Linked DNA regions of Homo sapiens: regions 1, 3 and 4 are each reported to be linked to region 2. Evidence: microRNA targets listed by miRTarBase, many of them from high-throughput screens and not tested one by one. Region 2 holds a microRNA gene; each other region holds the end of a gene's coding sequence.
The links. The annotated mature microRNA hsa-miR-519b-3p reads AAAGUGCAUCCUUUUAGAGGUU and lies in region 2 at 2,035-2,056, opposite strand. An mRNA with a match to its seed (bases 2 to 7 or 8) in the 3' UTR can be bound and repressed. Matches are read on the target gene's strand: a 7mer-m8 pairs with bases 2 to 8, a 7mer-A1 pairs with bases 2 to 7 and ends in A, and an 8mer does both.

Region 1: the mRNA of MFF is a reported target of hsa-miR-519b-3p. Seed matches in the 3' UTR shown: 7mer-m8 at 4,005-4,011.
Region 3: the mRNA of PXK is a reported target of hsa-miR-519b-3p. Seed matches in the 3' UTR shown: 7mer-m8 at 1,874-1,880.
Region 4: the mRNA of TNFRSF21 is a reported target of hsa-miR-519b-3p. Seed matches in the 3' UTR shown: 7mer-m8 at 840-846 and 7mer-m8 at 1,357-1,363.

The regions. Positions count from the first base shown.
Region 1 is chr2:227,356,672-227,361,732 of GRCh38, reverse strand. It overlaps MFF (mitochondrial fission factor), which reads right to left. Exons shown (of 9, transcript NM_001277062.2): 9 at 3,900-4,747. The coding sequence ends at 4,616. Among named protein-coding and RNA genes, the nearest start is that of TM4SF20, 20 kb to the left of the region's middle.
Region 2 is chr19:53,692,245-53,697,318 of GRCh38, reverse strand. It overlaps MIR519B (microRNA 519b), which reads right to left and starts at 2,106; the gene lies at 2,026-2,106. It overlaps MIR526B (microRNA 526b), which reads right to left and starts at 2,926; the gene lies at 2,844-2,926. It overlaps LOC107985342 (a long non-coding RNA gene), which reads right to left. Exons shown (of 3, transcript XR_007067332.1): 3 at 2,697-3,290.
Region 3 is chr3:58,424,006-58,429,066 of GRCh38, forward strand. PXK (PX domain containing serine/threonine kinase like) reads left to right here. Exons shown (of 18, transcript NM_017771.5): 18 at 747-2,122. The coding sequence ends at 955. It overlaps PDHB (pyruvate dehydrogenase E1 subunit beta), which reads right to left. Exons shown (of 10, transcript NM_000925.4): 9 at 4,468-4,609; 10 at 3,625-4,174. The coding sequence ends at 4,029. Among named protein-coding and RNA genes, the nearest start is that of PDHB, 7.3 kb to the right of the region's middle.
Region 4 is chr6:47,228,210-47,233,270 of GRCh38, reverse strand. TNFRSF21 (TNF receptor superfamily member 21) reads left to right here. Exons shown (of 6, transcript NM_014452.5): 6 at 277-1,739. The coding sequence ends at 506. Among named protein-coding and RNA genes, the nearest start is that of TNFRSF21, 79 kb to the left of the region's middle.

The DNA.
Region 1 (5,061 bases), not on the chromosome of region 2:
CTACCCCCACCTGCCTTATCTCTGGCAGCACTCTTTATCCTTGACTTCAGCACAAATACCACTTTTTCTGAGAGGCTATTCCTAAACGTCTAATGAAAACTAGGTTTCCCTTTACTCTTTTACCATGCTTTCATTTACAGCATTTATCACAATGATGATTGCATTTTCCTTTGTGCTTGCTTCTTAAATTTCACTGTCCCCCATTAGACTATAAGCTCCAGGGGTACAGGAACATGTTTATTCCCTCCTGGTATAAAGAGTACTTAGTACAGTGCCTGGTACAAAGCAGAAACATTGCATTTAGTTGAATGAATTAATGAATCCTATCTTCAGTACTCAGCTTTTAGCGAAGACTCGATACTTACTCAATGAACTGTCAAACTGCTAATGGTCATGTAATTAAAACAAAAATAAGACAGCTCACTGTACTCTAGTGAACAAGGGTCAGCAATGGTGCTTACAAATTTTCTCATCACCCCCCAAAATATTTATGCCATGTACTTTCCCCAAAATGTGACTTCATTAATTCAGCCAGTGACCAGAGTATCCTTACATCAATGAGTAAATATAAAAACTTTATTGGAATAGCATGTTAGCAGCAGTGAACAGGGCATGGCACAGAAGGTTTCCAAAACAAGTTTAGCATGAAGGATGCCATATGCTGTTGCCAACAACTAGAACACGGTGACTAAAGACACAGTTCTGAATGTCCAGCACAACCTCTGGCCTGCAACTATGTTCAGTGATGATGATAAACAAGGTGGTGACTTGGAAGGAATCCCTATGTCAAGTGAGAAAAAAAAATGATGTCTGACCTCCTTATATATGTAAAAAATATACCTTCAGAGTCCGTCAGTAAGCTGGAAGAAGTGGATGTTGAAGTTTTTAACATCGATGATGGGTCTCCAGTTGTTCATCAACCCATGGTGAAATAGCTGAACGGTTCTGAATCAAAGGTGATCCTAATAGTGAAGACATTAACATTGCAGAAAAAGTGCCTACAGATTATATGGTGAAAATACGTGATGGGCTTCTTGAAGGACTAGAGCAGTGTGTATTCAAAACAGAACAAGAAATCACGTCAGTTTATAAAAGCAAAGAGAGGTTTCTCAGACAAAAACATTGTTCATGAGGTAGATGACTCTGGAAGAAATACTTTAAAAAGCCACTGAGAAGAATGCCTCGTCTCCACAGGATCCACTTCCTAGCCTCTCAACTGCTTCTCATGTTTCTTCTCACTGAAAAAAATAGTGTCCAGTAATCTTTACTCCAACAGTACCGCCAGTGGGGACAGGAAACTTGCCGTGGCTGTTCTTGGTTGTGGCTGTTGTCTAACAGCTGGTGCAGTATCTGGTGATGCCCCTGTGCTGCTTAGTTACTTGAACGCAGTTTTTTCACTGTATTAATAGTGTGTCATTTTTTAATGTTAAGTATTTATGTGTGAAAAAGTGTTAAGAAAAAATGACTGTTTATTGGCAGCATATACACTCAGAGTCAGGAATGATAGTGATGGCAAAAAACCCGACTGTCCACATGCGTGGCTGAGATATCACTATGACATCTTTGCTTTTTGCTTTCTGATGGTTCAGCATACACAAACTTTGTTTCATACACAAAATTTGAAATATTGTATAAAATTATCTTTAGGTTATGTGTAGAGGGTATGTATGAAATATAAATGAATTTCATGTTTAGACTTGGGTCCCATCCTCAAGATATCTCATTATGTATATGTAAATACTTGAAAATCTGAAAAACTCTGAAATTCAAAATACTTCTGGTCCAAAGAATTTTGGATAAGGGCTGGGCAATCACTATAGTTAAGGAGCTGGAAACACACATTCATGCAGGAAGGAAGGAAAAAGGAAAGCTCTCTTGAAAATATACTACTTCCATGATGTTATCCTTCAAAGTGTAAACAACCTGCACATACTTCAACCATAATTACTAGAAGTGGGGAGAAGGGTGCACTTTCAGTAGTGCAACAATATATTTGCTATACTTAGTTGTATGATACGACTTTGGCTCCTGACTGTATCCATTTCTCCCTCTATCATCTGCACCTGGAATATTTTCTTGTTCTTTCTCTGCTTGTTGAAAGGCTCAGCTCAAATATCTGGTTATACTAACCAGGAACTAATTTGTTCTTCTCAACTCCAAAATATATTTCAACAGTAATTAACAATTTTTAGGGGAAGTACACAGGTGTTTAATAGAGATCCTAACTTTGGAGTTAGAGAGATTCAAGCTTTTCTACTTCTAGATATGTGACAAGGTCAGGTAAGGCAGGTTTCTTGGTTGTCCCCTTTTGCACTGTAAACAGAGTTTTCATTCACCGTCTGTTGGGGTCTTAGCTTCATTCACGAGTCTCCTGTTACAGCTGGTGCCTGCCTGAGGTAGGGAAGTCGATCTTCTACCCCTTGCACAATCATTAAGGGAGAAAGCTCCAAGTGTCCATTCTTTGGTAAGAATCATGAGGGAAAAAAAGGGCTTCCGCACTTCTCTCTCAGTATTCCTGCTTTTATTTCATTTTTTGACCTTTGTGGAATCCTTTTCATGTCTGTTTATCAAAAGATACTAACCTTATCCATCATTTTTCTTCATTTTTGTGATTTCAATTTGGAGGATAACCACAGAAATTACCTTCTGGTATACATAAATCTAGAATTAATATAGTTGCATCATTACCAAAAGTCAGAAAACTTCTAAGTACAGAGAAGAATCTTTGTCTTGATATTATTTTAGAGGGATAAGAAGCAAGAACGGAAATGCTAAATCTAACTCTATCCAAGGAATTTCCTCAACTGCCTTTCCCCAAACTCCCTGCCTTGGAAGAAAGATACCAAAGATGTGTGGAGAATGTTGCACCTAACTGAATTCTACCCATTTCTGAACCGAAAATGGGGAAATATAAGTTTTGAGAGCTAAAACTGTCTAGCACTTGGCTTCACTTGGTTTAATTCTTTTGAGATTTACTTTTAAATTTTTAGTTTTTTTTTGAGACGGAGTTTGGCTCTGTCACTCAGGCTGGAGTACAGTGGCATGATCTCAGCTTACTGCAACCTCTGCCTTCTGGGTTCAAGTGATTCTTCTGCCTCAGCCTCCTGAGTAGCTGGGATTACAGCTATTGCCACCATGCCTGCCACCACACCTGGCTAATTTTTGTATTTTTGGTAGAGATGGGGTTTCACTGTATTGGCCAGGCTGGTCTCGAACTCCTGACTTCAAGTGATCCACCCGCCTAGGCCTCCCAAAGTATTAGGATTACGGGCGTGAGCCACCACACCCAGCCTTGAGATTTAAATTCACCTATATATAATTAGCAAATAAATACTGCCATGAAAAAAGTATATACAACTCTGGCTGGGCGCAGTGGCTGTAATCCCAGCACTTTGGGAGGCTGAGGCAGGCAGACCACCTGAGGTCAGGAGTTCGAGACCAGCCTGGCCAACATGGCGAAACCCTGTATCTACTAAAAATACAAAAATTAGTTGGGTGTGGTGGCCAGCGCCTGTAATCCCAGCTACTCTGGAGGCTGAGGCAGAAGGATCACTTGAACCTGGGAGGTGGAGGTTGCAGTGAGCTGAGATCATGCCACGGGACTCCAGCATCAGCAACAGAGCGAGACTCCATCTCAAAAAAAAAAAAGTATACACAACTCAAGGTATTTAAACCTGAACCACTTTATAGATATTATAAATTAGAAAACCACCTACAATGCAACCAACAGCCACCACCACCAGGATGAAGGTCTGAAAGGAAGCACAGCAGGTTCTTGCTACCTACCAGGTCATTAATTGTATTACTTGCTCTGAGACGGGAAGACTCATAAGGTAATATGATACAAAATGTAGCTGATTGCACAAATGATGAAATAAAATCCTTCAACAGACAAATACTTCTTTGGTTGACAGTTTATTAAATACACTACATTTGTACCTTATTCTGTCGTTTTTTAAATTGTTCACGCATGAACTGAGTAAAAACGTACTTTATAGAAAACCAAGTGCAAAACTAAAATGAAAGAATGCACATATTGCACACATATGAAACTGCTGCAATGTTAGAAATTAATCTGTACAAGTACCTAATGAAGAAGGTTATGAAATATTAGGTGGTTCGAGTTTCTTAAATCTGGCACCAGACCATGACTTTGAAAGTGTTAATGTTGAAGTGTCGATGCAAAAATGTCTATTAACAAAACTGCTTAACACTGTTTGAGAAACAGGACAAAATAATTGTTTTTCTTTCACAGACACTTTTCTGAATCAATTCTCTACAGACTCTCTCCCATTCAGAATCAGTTGGGTGGACTGATGAGGCAAAAAATAAATTCCTTTTAAAAAACAAAACTGGAGCCTATTTACAAAACATGCAAAGGGAGAATTTTAAGCAGGTGTTACTGCAGAACTGCTCAGACGTGAATACAGCTGAGTGACAGAATATACCTTTACTTCTACAAATATAGGTCCTTCCTCCAGACTTTCTGGAAGAAATACATTTTCAGGGTGTGGACTATAAAATGGCATACAATGCAGAGACAGAAACAAAGAAGTTTGCAAATCTTTTATATTTCCAGCTGTTGAGACAGTATTTTTGAGGGCTGATGTTACCTCTAGCGGCGAAACCAGAGCCAGCTATTAAGCAGCCAGAAAGCTACAGTAATTGAATACATGACCATTTCTCTTTTAGCACGTTCTTTGTTCTCCTCTTCCAGAAGTTGTAGACGTCTATTTAGTTTGATTATCTAAGTGAAAAACAAACACACAAAAAATATAATATAGAGGCTTTAATGAATAGGGCAATCAGATTCTTATAAAGTAAGTAGTATAATAATTTGTCAACAAAAGTATTATTACAAACATGGAAAGTTTCATTTGGAGCAAAATAAACACAACTACACATAGAAAAACATGTCATTCATGACAGCTTAAATTCACTTAAACATCCTTTCCCTTTCCCTTCTTCAGATTTCTGAGTTAGGAAGGGTGTATTTCCTTCCTAACTTGATTACATAGTGAGGTGAGGAAGCGGTTACCTACTGTTATTCTGGCAGAAAAG
Region 2 (5,074 bases):
CAGAAAGAAAAAGCAGTGCCTACTACACATACCTTATATTTAACCAAGAGAATTGGGCTGGATTTCTAGAGAACAGCAATCAATTTTAAACCAAGTATTCACTTGAGTTCCAGGACAGGGACACTACAGGACAGACCACAGGCGAGGCCTTAAAAGCTCCTCAGTAAAATTTGAACAGCGGGAGGATCACTTGATCGCAGGAGTTAAGAGTCCAGCCTGTGGAACGTGCTGAAACCTCATCAGTACCAAAAATACAGAACTTACCCAGGGGTGGTGGTGCCTGCCTGTAGACACTAATCCAGGAGGCTGAGGTGGCAGGTGGAGGTTGCAGTGAGCCAAGATCTCACCACTGCCCTCCAGCCTCAGCGACATAGCCAGGCCCTGTCTCATAAAAATTAAAACAAAATACACAAACAAAAACAACTCCAAAGTGATATAAGAGTGTTCTCTGTGTATAGAAGACTATTTTGTGTGTATGGAATTATACACAGAACATTGTGATGAAATATACTCATTTTTTTTTGAGACCCTGTATAAAAAAAAACCAAAGTTCCATATACTATATGCTCACATAAAGCATAATTCCCACATATTGGTGCTTTGACAGCACACACAAATGAATGGGGTGACAGAGATTTCCATAGCCCCCGCACATAGGTGACACCCAAATTCATAATGGGTCCCATATTCAAAATTAGGAAAAAAGGCTGAGTGCAGTGGCTCATACCTGTAATCCCAGCACTTCGGGAGGCCTACGTCGGCAAATCACCTGAGGTCAGGATTCAAGAATGGCCTGGCTAACATGGTGAAACTGTGTCTAAAATACATATATATATATAGCTGGTATGGGGGTACATGTCTGCAATCCCAGCTACTTGGAAGGCTGAGGTTGCAGTGAGCTGAGATCACACCACTGCAGTCCAGCCTGGGAGACACAGAGAGGCTCTTTCTCCAAAAAAAAAAAAAAGAGAATTGCTTGAGTCCAGGAGGCAGAGGTTGCAGTGAGCCAAGATCACACTAATGTACTCCATCTCGGGTGACAGAGCAAGACTGTCTCAAATAGTCAAAGACAGAAAAAAAGAACAGGTCTCGCTCTCTTCTTGATTGTGTATGGGCTCACTTAAGGTCAGGAGTTGGAGACTGGGCTGGCCAACATGTTGAAACCCTGTCTCTACAAAAAAAAAAAAAACGAACAAACAAAAAAAACACAAAAATTAGCCGGGCGTGGTGGTGTGCGCCTGTGATCCCAGCTACTCGGGAGGATGAGGCAGGAGAATTGCTTGAACGTGGGATTGTGCCACTGACCTCCAGCCTGATGGACGGAGTAAGACTCTGTTTCAAAAATCGATGAGTAAATAAATAAATAATAAAAATACAAAAATTAGCTGGGTATGGTGGCTCATGTCTGCGATCTCAGCTACTAGGGAGGCTGACTCAGGAGAGAATGGCTTGAATCTGGGAGGTGGAGGGTACAGGGAGCGAAGTTCCTGCCACTGCACTCCAGCCTGGGTCACAGAGCAAGACTCCATCTCAAAAAAGAGGACCGCTGGGCACAATGGCCCACGCCTGTAATCCCAGCACTTTGGGAGGCTGAGGTGGGTGGATCTTGAGGTCAGTAGTTTGAGACCAGCCTGGCCAACGTGGTGAAACCCTGTCTCTACTAAAAATACAAAAATTAGCTGGAAGTGGTGGCAGGCACCTGTAGTCCCAGCTACTTGGGAGGCTGGGGCAGAAGAATTGCTTGAACTCAGGAGGTGAGCTTGCACACAAGATCGCGCCATTGCACTCTCGTCTGGGTCACAGAGCAAGACTCCGCCTCAAAAAAAAAAAAAAAAAAAAGAGGACCGTTTGAGCCTAAAAGATCTACGTTGGAAGTGCTACCCTACTCCAGCCTGGGCAAGAGAGACTCTGTCTTAGAAAAAAAAACAAAATAAAAACAGAATCCCACCATCATCCAAGTCTGATGATAAGCATGCTCTGCAAATGTATTACCAAGATCAGCATCAACTTCACTGTTGCTTTCCTCAAACAGTAAACCTCTAAAAGGATGCACTTTCTTTTCTTTCAGACAACAGAAAGCGCTTCCCTCTAGAGGGTCACAGCATGGGATCTTCTTGCTCCAGCACCCTGGGTTTTTTGTAGAAATTTTCCTTGACCAGGTTAAAATAGAGACAAAAATAAAGACCTATTTATTGGCTCTGTTTGCATGTTTTCTGGAATCCAGAACATAGACCCCTAAAAAGACCATCTCCCGTTCCTTCCTACAAAGGCTCAGCAGGTTAGCCTTGTTCATCAAGGGGAAATCCTCCTGAGTTTTGTGTCCAGAAAGAAAAAGCAATGCCTACTATGCATACCTTATATTTAACCAAGAGAATTGGGCTGGATTTCTAGAGAACAGCAGTGGATTTTCAGCCAAGTGTTCACTTGATTTCCAGCACAGGGACACACAGTCCTGATTAGAGCAGTCAAAATGGAATCTACCATGTTGAAGAATATACATTGTTGCACACACAAACATCCTCCAGGATAGACTACAAGGGAGGCCTTAAAAGCTCCTAAAGAAACCCTGTCTCTACTAAAAATACAAAATTAGCCAGGCATGGTGGCGCAGTCCTATAATCCCAGCTACTTGGGAGGCTGAGGCAGAAGAATCACTTGAACCCGGGAGGCGGAGGTTGTGGTGAGCCAAGATTGTGCCACTGCACTTCAGCCTGGGCAACAGAGACCCAGTCTTAGATAAAAAAACAAAAGAAAAACAAAACCCCAACATCATCCAAGTCTGATTATAAGCGTGCTCTGCAAAGATATTACAAAGATCAGCATCAACTACAACGTTGCTTTTCTCAGACAGTAAGCCTCTAAAAGGAAGCACTTTCTCTTCTTTCAGACAACAGAAAGTGCTTCCCTCAAGAGGGTCACAGCCTGACATCTTCTTGCTCTGATGCCGTGGATTTTTTCCTGGAATTTTCTTTGACCAAGTTAAAATAGACACAAAAATAAAGATGCATTTATTGACCCTGTATGCATGTTTTATGGAATCCAGAATATAAAACTCTATAAGGACCATCTCCAGTTCCTTGCTTCAAAGAATCAGCAGGTTAGCCTTGTTCATCAAGGGGCAATCCTCCTGAGTTTTGTCCCCAAAGAGAAAAAGCAATGCCTACTACACGTACCTTTAACCGAGAAAATTGGGCAGGATTTCTGGAGAACAGCAATGGATTTTAAGCCAAGTGTTCACTCGAGTTCCAGTACAGGACCCACAGTCACGAAGGGAGCATCCAAAATGGAGTCTACGATGTTGAAGAATATACACTGTCATATGCACAAACACTCTCCAGAGTAGATCACAGGCTAGGATGTAAAAACTACTCAATAAAATTTGAGCAGAAATACACAAGTACAAGTGGGGCCCAGTGGCTCAGACCTCTAACTCCTCGAACTTTAGGAGGCCCAGGCAGGAGGATCACCTGCCTCAGGAGCTCGAGACCAGCCCCGGCAACATGGCGAGACCCCATGTGTACAAAAATTACAGAAGTTAGCCAGGTGTGGTGGTGCATGCCTGTAGAGACTAATTCAGCAGGCTTAGGTGGGAGGTGGAGGTTGCAGTAAGCCGAGATTGCACCACCACACTCCATCTTGGGTGACAGAGGCAGATATTGTCTCAGAAAAGAACCACACACACACGCACACACACGCACACGCACACACACCCTAGGTGATATCGGAGTATTCTCTGTGTTTAGAAGAGTATTTTGTGTGTACATAATATATAAGAATATAAAATGAAATATACATCATGTATTTTTGAGACCCTGTCTCAAAGAAAGTTCCAAATATTGCATGCTTATAGGAAGAATAATTCCTATACATAACTGCTTGCTTTGGAAGTACACATAAAAAAATTTAAATGACATAGAATATCCTGGCCACTGCACAAAGGCGACACCCAAGTCCATGCTGGTCCCATATTCACCTAATTATTTTTATTTTTATTTATTTATTTATTTAGAGACAGAGTCTCACACTGTTGCCCAGGCAGGAGTGTAACGGTGTGATCTCTGCTCGCTGTAACCTCCGCCTCCCAGATTCATGTGATTCTCCTGCCTCAGCCTCCCGAGTAGCTGGGATTACAGGTGAGTGCCACCACACCCGGCTAATTTTTGTATTTTTAGTAGAGACGGGGTTTCACCATGCTGGCCAGACTGGTCTCGAACAACTGACCTCAGGTGATCCTCCTGTCTCAGCCTCCCAAAGTGCTAGAATTACTGGTGGAAGTCACCATACCCAGACTAGTCCCATATTTAAAATTAGGAAAAAGCAAAAGATGCCCACACCTCAACAGCAATGTTCGAGTACATCTCAAATACATTGCACATCCCATCTGCAAGGGACGCTGAGGTCCCCTTCAATTCTACGTGAACCCACGTGAGGTTCTATAAACCAGTGCCCGAATAATTTCTACGTAGGAAAAGTTGTTGATAGCCGGGCGTGTTGGCTCACACCTGTATTCACAGCACTTTGTGAGGCTGAGGCAGGTGGACCAACTGAGGTCAGGAGTTCCAGACCAACCTGGCCAACATGGCAAAACCCTGTCTCTATTAAAAATACAAAAATTAGCCGGGCGTGGTGGTGCACGGTTGTAGTCCTAGCGACACGTGAGGCTGAGGCAAGAGAATCGCTTGAACCCGGGAGGCAGTGGTTGCAGTGAGCTGAGATCACACCATTGCACTCCAGCCTGGGTGACAGAGCGAGACTCTGTCTCAAAAAAAAATAATAATAATAAAATAAATAAATAAATAAATAAATAAATAAAAGGTGTTGAGGACTGGAAGAACATGCATCGCTCACTATGGCAACAAGAAGAGCTGCTGTGCATTCCACCTGTTACGAGGGAGCCCCTTCTAGGGTCCTCAAGATTTTTGTGAAAACAACTGGTTTTGTTGCATGCTACATTTATCACTGTGACTGAGATTCATCTTGTCTACAACAGTTTCTTATATTAGCCACAGCTAATATAAGACACATTTGACATCTTAGCAAGTAACTGGCATTTAGATGCAAGGTTTAAGCCCAT
Region 3 (5,061 bases), not on the chromosome of region 2:
TGTTCCTTGGTTGGGCCACAATGGAGAGAACAGTACTTGAGAAGGATTTCTCTGTAAGAATACCATGGCAGAGAGACCCCTCTGCCCCCTGCTTTGCATTGCTAACAGTTATTAGCATTTTATATTTCTTTAATGCAACCTAATAGGAAATTATTATTCGAGACAGACTCCTCTGGGAAATGCATAACCCAGGAGGCACTGATTCCTTGCTGAGAATCCTGAGTGGTCTGTCATTTTACATAAGATCACATCCTTCAAACATTGTGTATGTTGGAGCAGCGAAAGAACTGTTCACCCCTTATGAATAACTGACATTCAGGAAGCCCAACTCCATCATGCAGATGTCTATCTTTAATTGCTAGCTCAGAAGCAGACAGAGCTTCCTGGGACCTGGCTAAAGTAACTGATAGATGGAACTCTTCTTTGGGGACTATTACTTTGCAAATGGGGTCAGAGCCTCATCTATGCAGAGAATGTCACCATATGTGGTTTCATGTAATCTGTAATTATTTGTTCCAACAGCCTTTAACATGACTATTGTTTGAGAAACATGGCAACTTTTAATTCCCCTTTGATGCTTCTAGCTTTCTTTAGTATTTTAAGAACTCATACAGTACTAGGTATGTTGGTCCCTCTGAGAAAAACATGTGGACTCTCACCAGTCCGTTGTGCTCAGGACTGAGCAGCAGCGTGTGTGCAGGGCAGCTGTGGAGGTGAATACTGATTGTCCCCCTTTTCCTCCACAGGGATATCTGCATTACCTCCACCTCCTCCACCTCCACCACCACCAGCAGCTCCCTTGCCTCCTGCGAGCACCGAGGCACCTGCCCAGCTCTCGTCTCAGGCTGTGAATGGCATGAGCCGAGGGGCCTTGCTCAGCTCCATCCAGAATTTCCAAAAAGGAACTTTGAGGAAAGCCAAAACCTGTGATCACAGTGCTCCGAAGATCGGCTGAAGCTTCCTGTTTACACTTGGAGGGAAAAGTTCTTTTTTATTCCTACTCACCCCTACCCCCCAAACTACCCTCTTCCTGGGAAAGTAATTGCTGAGCCAGTACAGCCACAAACAGTACTATTTTGCAGATGCTCATGTAAGCAGCTTTTCGAGAGAAATAATTCTTTAAGCAGAATAAAGTTAGGCTGGCATTGCTCCCTTAAGATCTTGCTCCTTTATTAACCCTGTAAAGGAGTCTTGTTTATCCTCTAATGGCCAGGCTTTTGGGACAGCAGCATATTGAAATATTTTCACCAACTAAAGGAAATAGACAGAAAAACAATGACAATATTCAATCACAGCAGTAAATGGCCTTTGTGTTGCAATCCCTTCTACCCCATCAGACAGCTCCTAGAAACATTCCTCTTACAGTTCATTTCTCTAAAGCATTTTCTGATTCTTAGATAACTCCAATTTTTGCTACCTTTATCTTAGACATTAACACTATAGCCCAAAGCATAGTTACTTTGCTAAATCAGAAAGCAACTGAGTTCTTTGTTTTCTCCTCAAATAGAATGGGGAACGTTCACAACATTCTCTTAAGTTCTAACAGGAATACCATTGTGGTTATAGAACTCAGGGCTGCTAAAGCAACTACTCTAGACCCATAGTTCTTTTTAGTTAGATGTATTGAAACAGACAAAAATATTAACATCAGAAAAAGCTCTTGCCAATTAGAGGATCTTCTTAATCCTCAGCAATTAAGTTTGGGGTTTGAGGGGGGCAGGTCATTGTTACAACAGAAGTAAATTTGGCATCTATAGAAATCAATTATGATTTTTGAAAGATTTATCTAAATATATCAATATAGCATCTCTTTAATGTTAGTCATTTATTAGAAAGATCCTTTATCCTGATTTGCTTAAACCTTTCAATAAATTGCACTTTAAAGGATTATAAATAATCCATTTAAAAATTCAAGTACACACATCAGTGTTGGTTACTATGCAGAGAATGTCATTGTGTATAGTTTCATGTAATCTGTTATGTCAGCTGTATTTTTTATTAAAATCATGTCAAGAAAACGTGTTGTCTGTAGCTTGACAAGATATTTCAAATGAGAACTTTTTGTAGCGTCTGTTGTTAGCAAAGAATAGATTCACACAGTCTAAGGTTTCCTTCCTACCTATCCTGTCTCTTATTCTTTTGTGTCTCACTTTTCCTCTAAGAACTAAAAATCCTGCCTTGCTACTTAAATTAGGTACCACCTATATGCTTCTCTAACTAATTTAAACCCATCTTTTCCATCTCAGCTTCTGGAGGGCAGTATTTGACAGAATATCTGATCTTTGGAAATGGGAAAAACAACTGATATAAACTTTGCCATAATTTTAAAGAGAATGCTATTAGAATTAGGCATTTGGAGAGTCTGTGGAGAAGTTCCTGTTTCAAGTGTGATGCAACCTAGGTGATTACCTGATGGAGGCTTGTGAGGCCTGAGTCCTTCTGAAGTCAGTTTTGCTGACTATTCTGGATAGTTCAGATATATGAATACAAACAGGTAATGGTCTTGTACAGTATCAGCTTATTTTCCACATGGAACTAATTTCTTTTGTTGTTATTTTTAAGACAGGGTTTCGCTCTTTCACTCAGGCTGGAGTGCAGTGACCCAATCACAGCTCACTGCAGCCTTGACCTCCCAGGGCTCAAGCAATCCTCCTATAGGCACACCACCAGATACCTGGGTTTTTTGTTTTGTTTTTTTTGTTTTGTTTTTGTAGGCAGGGTTTTTGCAACGTTGCCCCAGGCTGGTCTCAAACTCCTGGGCTCAAGCAATCCCTGCCTCAGCCTCCCAAAGTGCTGGGATTATAGGCATGAGCTACTGTGGCCTGGCAGCACTAATTTCTTAATAAATAGAATTTCAAGTTTTCTACCCACATTGACTTTTTTTTTTTCTATCTATCTTTTCTTTGTAGAGATGGGGTTTTGCCATGTTCCCCAGGCTGGTCCTGAACTCCTACACTCAAGGGATCCACCCACCTCGGCCTCCCAAAGTGCTAGGATTACATGTCTGAGCCACCACACCCAGCCAATTCTTTTTTTTGAGACGGAGTCTTGCTCTGTTGTCCAGGCTGGAGTACAGTGGCGCCATCTCTGCTCACTGCAACCTCCGCCTCCTGGGTTCAAGCAATTATCCTGCCTCAGCCTCCCGAGCAGCTGGGTCTACAGGCGCATGCCACCATGCCCGGCTTTAGTAGACAGGGTTTCACCATGTTAGCCAGGATGGTCTTGATCTCCTGACATCATGTTCTGCCCGCCTTGGCCTCCCAAAGTACTGGGATTACAGGCATGAGCCACCACGCCCAGCCCAGCCAATTCTTTCAATATAAAAATACAATAGTCATGGCCAGGTGTGGTGGCTCATGCCTGTAATCCCAGCAGTTTGGGAGGGCCAAGGCAGGTGGATCACCTGAGGTCAGGTGTTCAAGACCAGCCTGGCCAACATGGTGAAACCCCACCTCTACTAAAAACACCAAAATTAGCCGGATGTGGTGGCTAATTTCCTACTGAGGCTGAGGCAGGAGAATCACTTGAACCTGGGAGGTGGAGGCTGCAGTGAGCCAAGATTGTGCCATCACACTCCAGCTTGGGGAACAGAGCCAAACATTGTCTCAAAAAAAAAAAAATTAGTCATGTTAGAAATTCCTTTATTCCTTATCAAAACAAACTAACAGTAAATGTATATTATATGCTTTAATTTTATACATATAAGTTATCTTGTTTGGATACATCTTTCATGAGGACTCTGCCACATCCATACTTTGTCCTTGTGGTGAGAGAGGATAAAATGTTATATAATTTGTTATTCAAAGAACATGGCAACCGTAACAGACAAAAGGAAGCATGGCATCTAGGGGAGGAGAGTGGAGAGTTTTCCATACACAAACACATTTAAACTTCCCTGTACAAAAATACCTGCTGTTGCTTTAGAAATCGTTTTCCGTTATGAATAGTCAGGTCTTGCAGTACAAATCCAGGTGCAGTGCCAGCAAGTATTTCAAATAAATTTCAACGACTTGATATTCAAGTCCAAACTAAATATTTAATGTTTTCTTTATTGCAAATATGATGTCTTTGACCTGAGGTATAGAGTTGTCCTCTAGAATCTTTGCATAAGGCATAGGGACATCAGCACCAGTGACACGAACAGCAGGAGCATCCAGGAAATTGAACGCAGGACCTAGGAGAAGGAAGGCTCAACTGAGAGAGTGCAAATGCCAGCTGGGCACTACCACCTTGGCACAGAGGTGTGGCTGACCAGGAAGAGAAAATGTAAGGAATGCTAATTATGGGGAACCGCTTTCTGGATTTGCTTTTAAAAATATCTGCCTGAAGAGAAATGCCAAACTTACAAGTTTAAAGTTGAAGTCGTTTGGCCACTCCTAGCTTTCAATCTCTTTATCCTGTACGTATTCAGGTACATGATGTTTACTATAGCTTGACTGTATTCTAGAACCAGTTTCTTTGAAATACCTTCCATGATCCTGGCACAGATTTCAGCTCCTACTCCAAACTGTGGCCAGCCTCCTTCCACAGTTACAAGATGATTTGTCTTCATGACACTGGCTTCTATGGTTTCCATGTCCATTGGTCTAATGGTACGCATATTTATCACCTAAACAGGTAATATAATCAAGTTTACAGAGCTATTGCAGCACAAATAGAGCCTTATCCCCATAATACCATTTCCTTTTTTGTTTCCTGTTAATCTTTGTATCTAGGAAAATCTAATCTGCCTATGAATACCTATTCATGAATGTACAAACTGTAAAAGGAAAAATTTTAATTAAAACAAAGATCTGTATGTCTACCACAAGCAGCTCTGTGCAGTTATAGGATTCATTTATCTTCCTTCACTTTTTTATTTCTTTTGGGATGGAGTTTTGCTCTTGTTGTCCAGGCTGGAGTGCAGTGGCGTGATCTCGGCTCACTGCCACCCCCGCCTTCCCAGTTCAAGCCATTTTCCTGCCTCAGCCTCTGGAGTAGCTGGGATTACAGGCATAGACCACCACGCCTAGCTAATTTTTGTATTTTTAGTAGAGATGGGGTTTCAACATGTTGGCCAGA
Region 4 (5,061 bases), not on the chromosome of region 2:
TTAATGATAACTCAGCAAGCCATTCAAGCAAGACCTTGTCTGATCTCTACCAGGCAAATCTTGTTTGCTATCTTACACGTGCAACACAAGTAAAAACTCTTGTGTTGTTTCGAATGTGCCAGAGGATCACTCACTCTCTCACTGTAATGGAGGATGGAGAATAATAGGCTGGGGGGGACATAGATGTCTCTCTCTCTAGGACCCTGCTCTCCTTCCTCCAGGCCTTGCCAGTACAGTCACCTTACAGCTGTCTTTGCTTCCCTCTCTTCTCTGCAGAAAAGAAGGACACAGTGTTGCGGCAGGTACGCCTGGACCCCTGTGACTTGCAGCCTATCTTTGATGACATGCTCCACTTTCTAAATCCTGAGGAGCTGCGGGTGATTGAAGAGATTCCCCAGGCTGAGGACAAACTAGACCGGCTATTCGAAATTATTGGAGTCAAGAGCCAGGAAGCCAGCCAGACCCTCCTGGACTCTGTTTATAGCCATCTTCCTGACCTGCTGTAGAACATAGGGATACTGCATTCTGGAAATTACTCAATTTAGTGGCAGGGTGGTTTTTTAATTTTCTTCTGTTTCTGATTTTTGTTGTTTGGGGTGTGTGTGTGTGTTTGTGTGTGTGTGTGTGTGTGTGTGTGTGTGTGTGTTTAACAGAGAATATGGCCAGTGCTTGAGTTCTTTCTCCTTCTCTCTCTCTCTTTTTTTTTTAAATAACTCTTCTGGGAAGTTGGTTTATAAGCCTTTGCCAGGTGTAACTGTTGTGAAATACCCACCACTAAAGTTTTTTAAGTTCCATATTTTCTCCATTTTGCCTTCTTATGTATTTTCAAGATTATTCTGTGCACTTTAAATTTACTTAACTTACCATAAATGCAGTGTGACTTTTCCCACACACTGGATTGTGAGGCTCTTAACTTCTTAAAAGTATAATGGCATCTTGTGAATCCTATAAGCAGTCTTTATGTCTCTTAACATTCACACCTACTTTTTAAAAACAAATATTATTACTATTTTTATTATTGTTTGTCCTTTATAAATTTTCTTAAAGATTAAGAAAATTTAAGACCCCATTGAGTTACTGTAATGCAATTCAACTTTGAGTTATCTTTTAAATATGTCTTGTATAGTTCATATTCATGGCTGAAACTTGACCACACTATTGCTGATTGTATGGTTTTCACCTGGACACCGTGTAGAATGCTTGATTACTTGTACTCTTCTTATGCTAATATGCTCTGGGCTGGAGAAATGAAATCCTCAAGCCATCAGGATTTGCTATTTAAGTGGCTTGACAACTGGGCCACCAAAGAACTTGAACTTCACCTTTTAGGATTTGAGCTGTTCTGGAACACATTGCTGCACTTTGGAAAGTCAAAATCAAGTGCCAGTGGCGCCCTTTCCATAGAGAATTTGCCCAGCTTTGCTTTAAAAGATGTCTTGTTTTTTATATACACATAATCAATAGGTCCAATCTGCTCTCAAGGCCTTGGTCCTGGTGGGATTCCTTCACCAATTACTTTAATTAAAAATGGCTGCAACTGTAAGAACCCTTGTCTGATATATTTGCAACTATGCTCCCATTTACAAATGTACCTTCTAATGCTCAGTTGCCAGGTTCCAATGCAAAGGTGGCGTGGACTCCCTTTGTGTGGGTGGGGTTTGTGGGTAGTGGTGAAGGACCGATATCAGAAAAATGCCTTCAAGTGTACTAATTTATTAATAAACATTAGGTGTTTGTTACTTAAGTAGTCCGAGTATATTTAATCGTTGAATTTCTTGCTTTGTACATGTCCTCTAGTTGTGACTCTTTGATTAGTCTTTTGCAAAAGTATGTGTGCTCTAAAAACCTCAGCTATTCTAATCTGTAAATCGTGGAAATTAGCAAAGATTTCAGGCAGGGCATCCACTTCCATTTTCTCACTGAAAGAGGAACTTAAAATTGCTAAGGTCTGGTTGTTGGAATTCTGTAGAGCCACAGTTCCCAAGCAAAGGGAGACATGCAATGAATATGATATGATATATGATATGCTATAATGTATTCTACAATTCTATAGATTTGTGTTTGGAAAGGTACCTGGAGGTTCGTAGGGAAGGACTTTAGTGAAAACTACCAAGCACTTCCTAGTCTTTTGGATTAAGTCTGAGAATTCAGTTTTTGAGATTGTCCTTATTATAGGAAATGGGTAGATACCTCATTGTTCCTGAATAAGTTCAGAGGGCTCTCATGGTCTTGAGGCAGGGTGAGATCTCATGTTGATAGAATATATTGTAGCATATCATATATCATATCATATTCATTGCATGTTTCCCTTTGCTTGGGAACCGTGGCTCTACAGAATTCCAACAACCAGAACCTTAGCAATTTTAAGTTCCTCTTTCAGTGAGAAACTGGAAGTGGATGCCCTGCCCGAACATTTGGACACCCACGTCAGCGACATTAAAGGGTTTTTCTGGTTTCATCCACTTCCACATGGTTGGTTTCTAGAGAACTATCCTGGTATTTAATTACACTGGTTCTTACACCAGGTTTCCCCGCCTTTTGTCAATAAAAGACAGGAACTCTTATCAGGAAGGAAAGCAAACTAGAATGGGTCACAGATGGTAGTGGAGGAGACAGCGTTTGCATTTCAGAGGATCTCAGAACTGCCACTAATTTCATGTGGGGGTAGAAAACACAAAGAATGAATGGTTATTATGATTAAGTTTGTGGGTTATTTGTACCTTGTGTCTTGGGATGCTTTCGTTAATAACTCACATTTACACAGGTTTATACTTTGCAAAGTGATTTTTGTATTACCTTATTGAATCCTCACAACTATAAGGTAGGTACTATTATTGTGTCCATTTTATAGATTTAAAAACAGGCTTATAAAGGCTAAAGAACTTGTGTAAGGCCTATAGCAAAGTTGTAGAGATCAGACTTGAATCCATGTCTTCTGACTGTCTGAATCCAAGACTGACTGTTCCATGTATTTAGGACCAGTGACCGGAAATTCCTTGTTGGCTGAAATAGTGGGCAGAGATCACAGTGATGAAATTTATTTGTCAGTCAGTACTTGTGAAAATATTGGAATGAGGTGACATCTGTTGATGATCCATAGGGAAGGAACATAGGAGATGTGGTTAAATGAAAGCTTAATATTGAACTAACATGATATATAGCTTTTCTAAAAAGAATGGAACCTCCAGCCGCATTATTAAAAAATCAGAAGTTCTGATCAGAGCCGATGATAGTGTCATTTGTATACTGTGTGGCACACTTTAGAGCTTTCCTCTAGCTTTGGCCTGTCTTACTGTGAGGAGTATGGCTGAAGTGAAAGGTTTCCAGTGTGTCGTGGGGACATAGGGGGATACCAGGAAGAGTAAGAAACAGAATCAGGAGCAACTGTTGGCAAATCTAAGCCTGACAATGAAGACCAGGCAACAGGAGAAAGATTAGCTTCAGTTATTTGAAGGGCTAAGGAAGAGATGATGTATTTTTCTCTAGAGGATAATATACTTTCCTCTAGGCTGATGTAGGCTAAGTGCAATTAGACTGAGCTGCTTTTCAAATAAGAGAATGAGTCCTGCTCTGGGAAAAAGTTGGGCCTGCATCAGTGGTTCTCAAACTTTCATGTAAATAAGAATCATCTGGGAATAAGCAGTCAATTAAAAAGGCAGATTCGGAGAGAATTCAATTCAGGTTTGTGGTGAATTCCAGAATGAGTTTCCTACACTTACAGAAAGTGCTTTAGATCCTTGCCACTGTGGATGAGGACCGGCAGTATCCATAATACTAGGAAGCATTGTGTTAGGAATGCAGAATTTGAGGCCACTGTGTTGTGCTCCCTAAACTTGAATATGCAACTGAAACACCTGGGTATCTTAAAGGCAGATTCGGTTTTAATTGTTCTGTGGGACTGGGCTGAGGCTGCATTTCTTTCTTTCTTTCTTTCTTTTTTATTTTTTTTGAGACGGAGTCTCTCACTCTGGAGTGCAGTGGCAACGATCTCGGCTCATTGCAACCTCCGCCTCCCAGGTTCAAGCAATTCTGCCTCAGCCTCCCAAGTAGCTGGGACTACAGGCACCCGCCACCACATCTGGCTACTTTTTTTTGTATTTTTAGTAGAGACGGGGTTTCCCTATGTTGGCCAGGCTGGGCTCGAACTCCTGACCTTGTGATTCGCCCGTCTCGGCCTCCCAAAGTGCTGGGATTACAGGCGTGAGCCACCATGCCCAGCCTGAGGCTGCATTTCTAACAAGCTCCTGGGTGATGTGGATGCTCCCGGTCATGAGATAACACTGGGTAGCCTGAAACAGGCCAATTATGCCTCAGTTTCATGCAAAGGGTAGCACTAATATGGGAGATTATACCACTTCCATGTGAGAGAAGTAAACAAATTCTGATGACCCAACGAGATTTCTAGAACCAGACAATCTTGGGCAAATTCTACAGTAGTGGGTCTTAATTCTGACTACACATTGAAATCAGCGGGAAAACTTTGAGAGACCCAATGCCCAGGCCATATGCAAGATCAACAATGTCAGAATCACAGGAGATAGGACTCAGGCAGCAGCACTTTTTTTTAAATTTTAAATTTTAAATTTTTTTTTATTTGGGGGGAAGCTTTAAAAAAAGGTTTACTTTAGGTTCAGGGGTCCATGTGCAGGTTGTATGTATATATATGTGTGTGTGTGTGTGTGTGTGTGTGTGTGTGTGTAAACTTGTCACAGGAGTTTATTGTACAGATTATTTTGTCACCCAAATATTATACTAAGCCTAGTATCTAATAGTTATTTTTTTCTGATGCTCTCCCCTGGCCACCATCCAACCTCAAATAGGCCCCAATGTCTTGTTCCCCTCTTTGTGTCCATGTGTTCTCATCATTTAACTTCCACTTATAAGTGAGAACATGCAGTGTTTGGCTTTCTGTTCCTGCATTAGTTTACAAAGGATGATGGCCTCCAGCTCCATCCGTGTTCCTGCAAAGGACATGATCTCATCCTTTTTTATGGCTGTATAGTATTCCATGGTACCACATTCCGTATGTACCACATTTTCTTTATCCAGTTTACCATACGT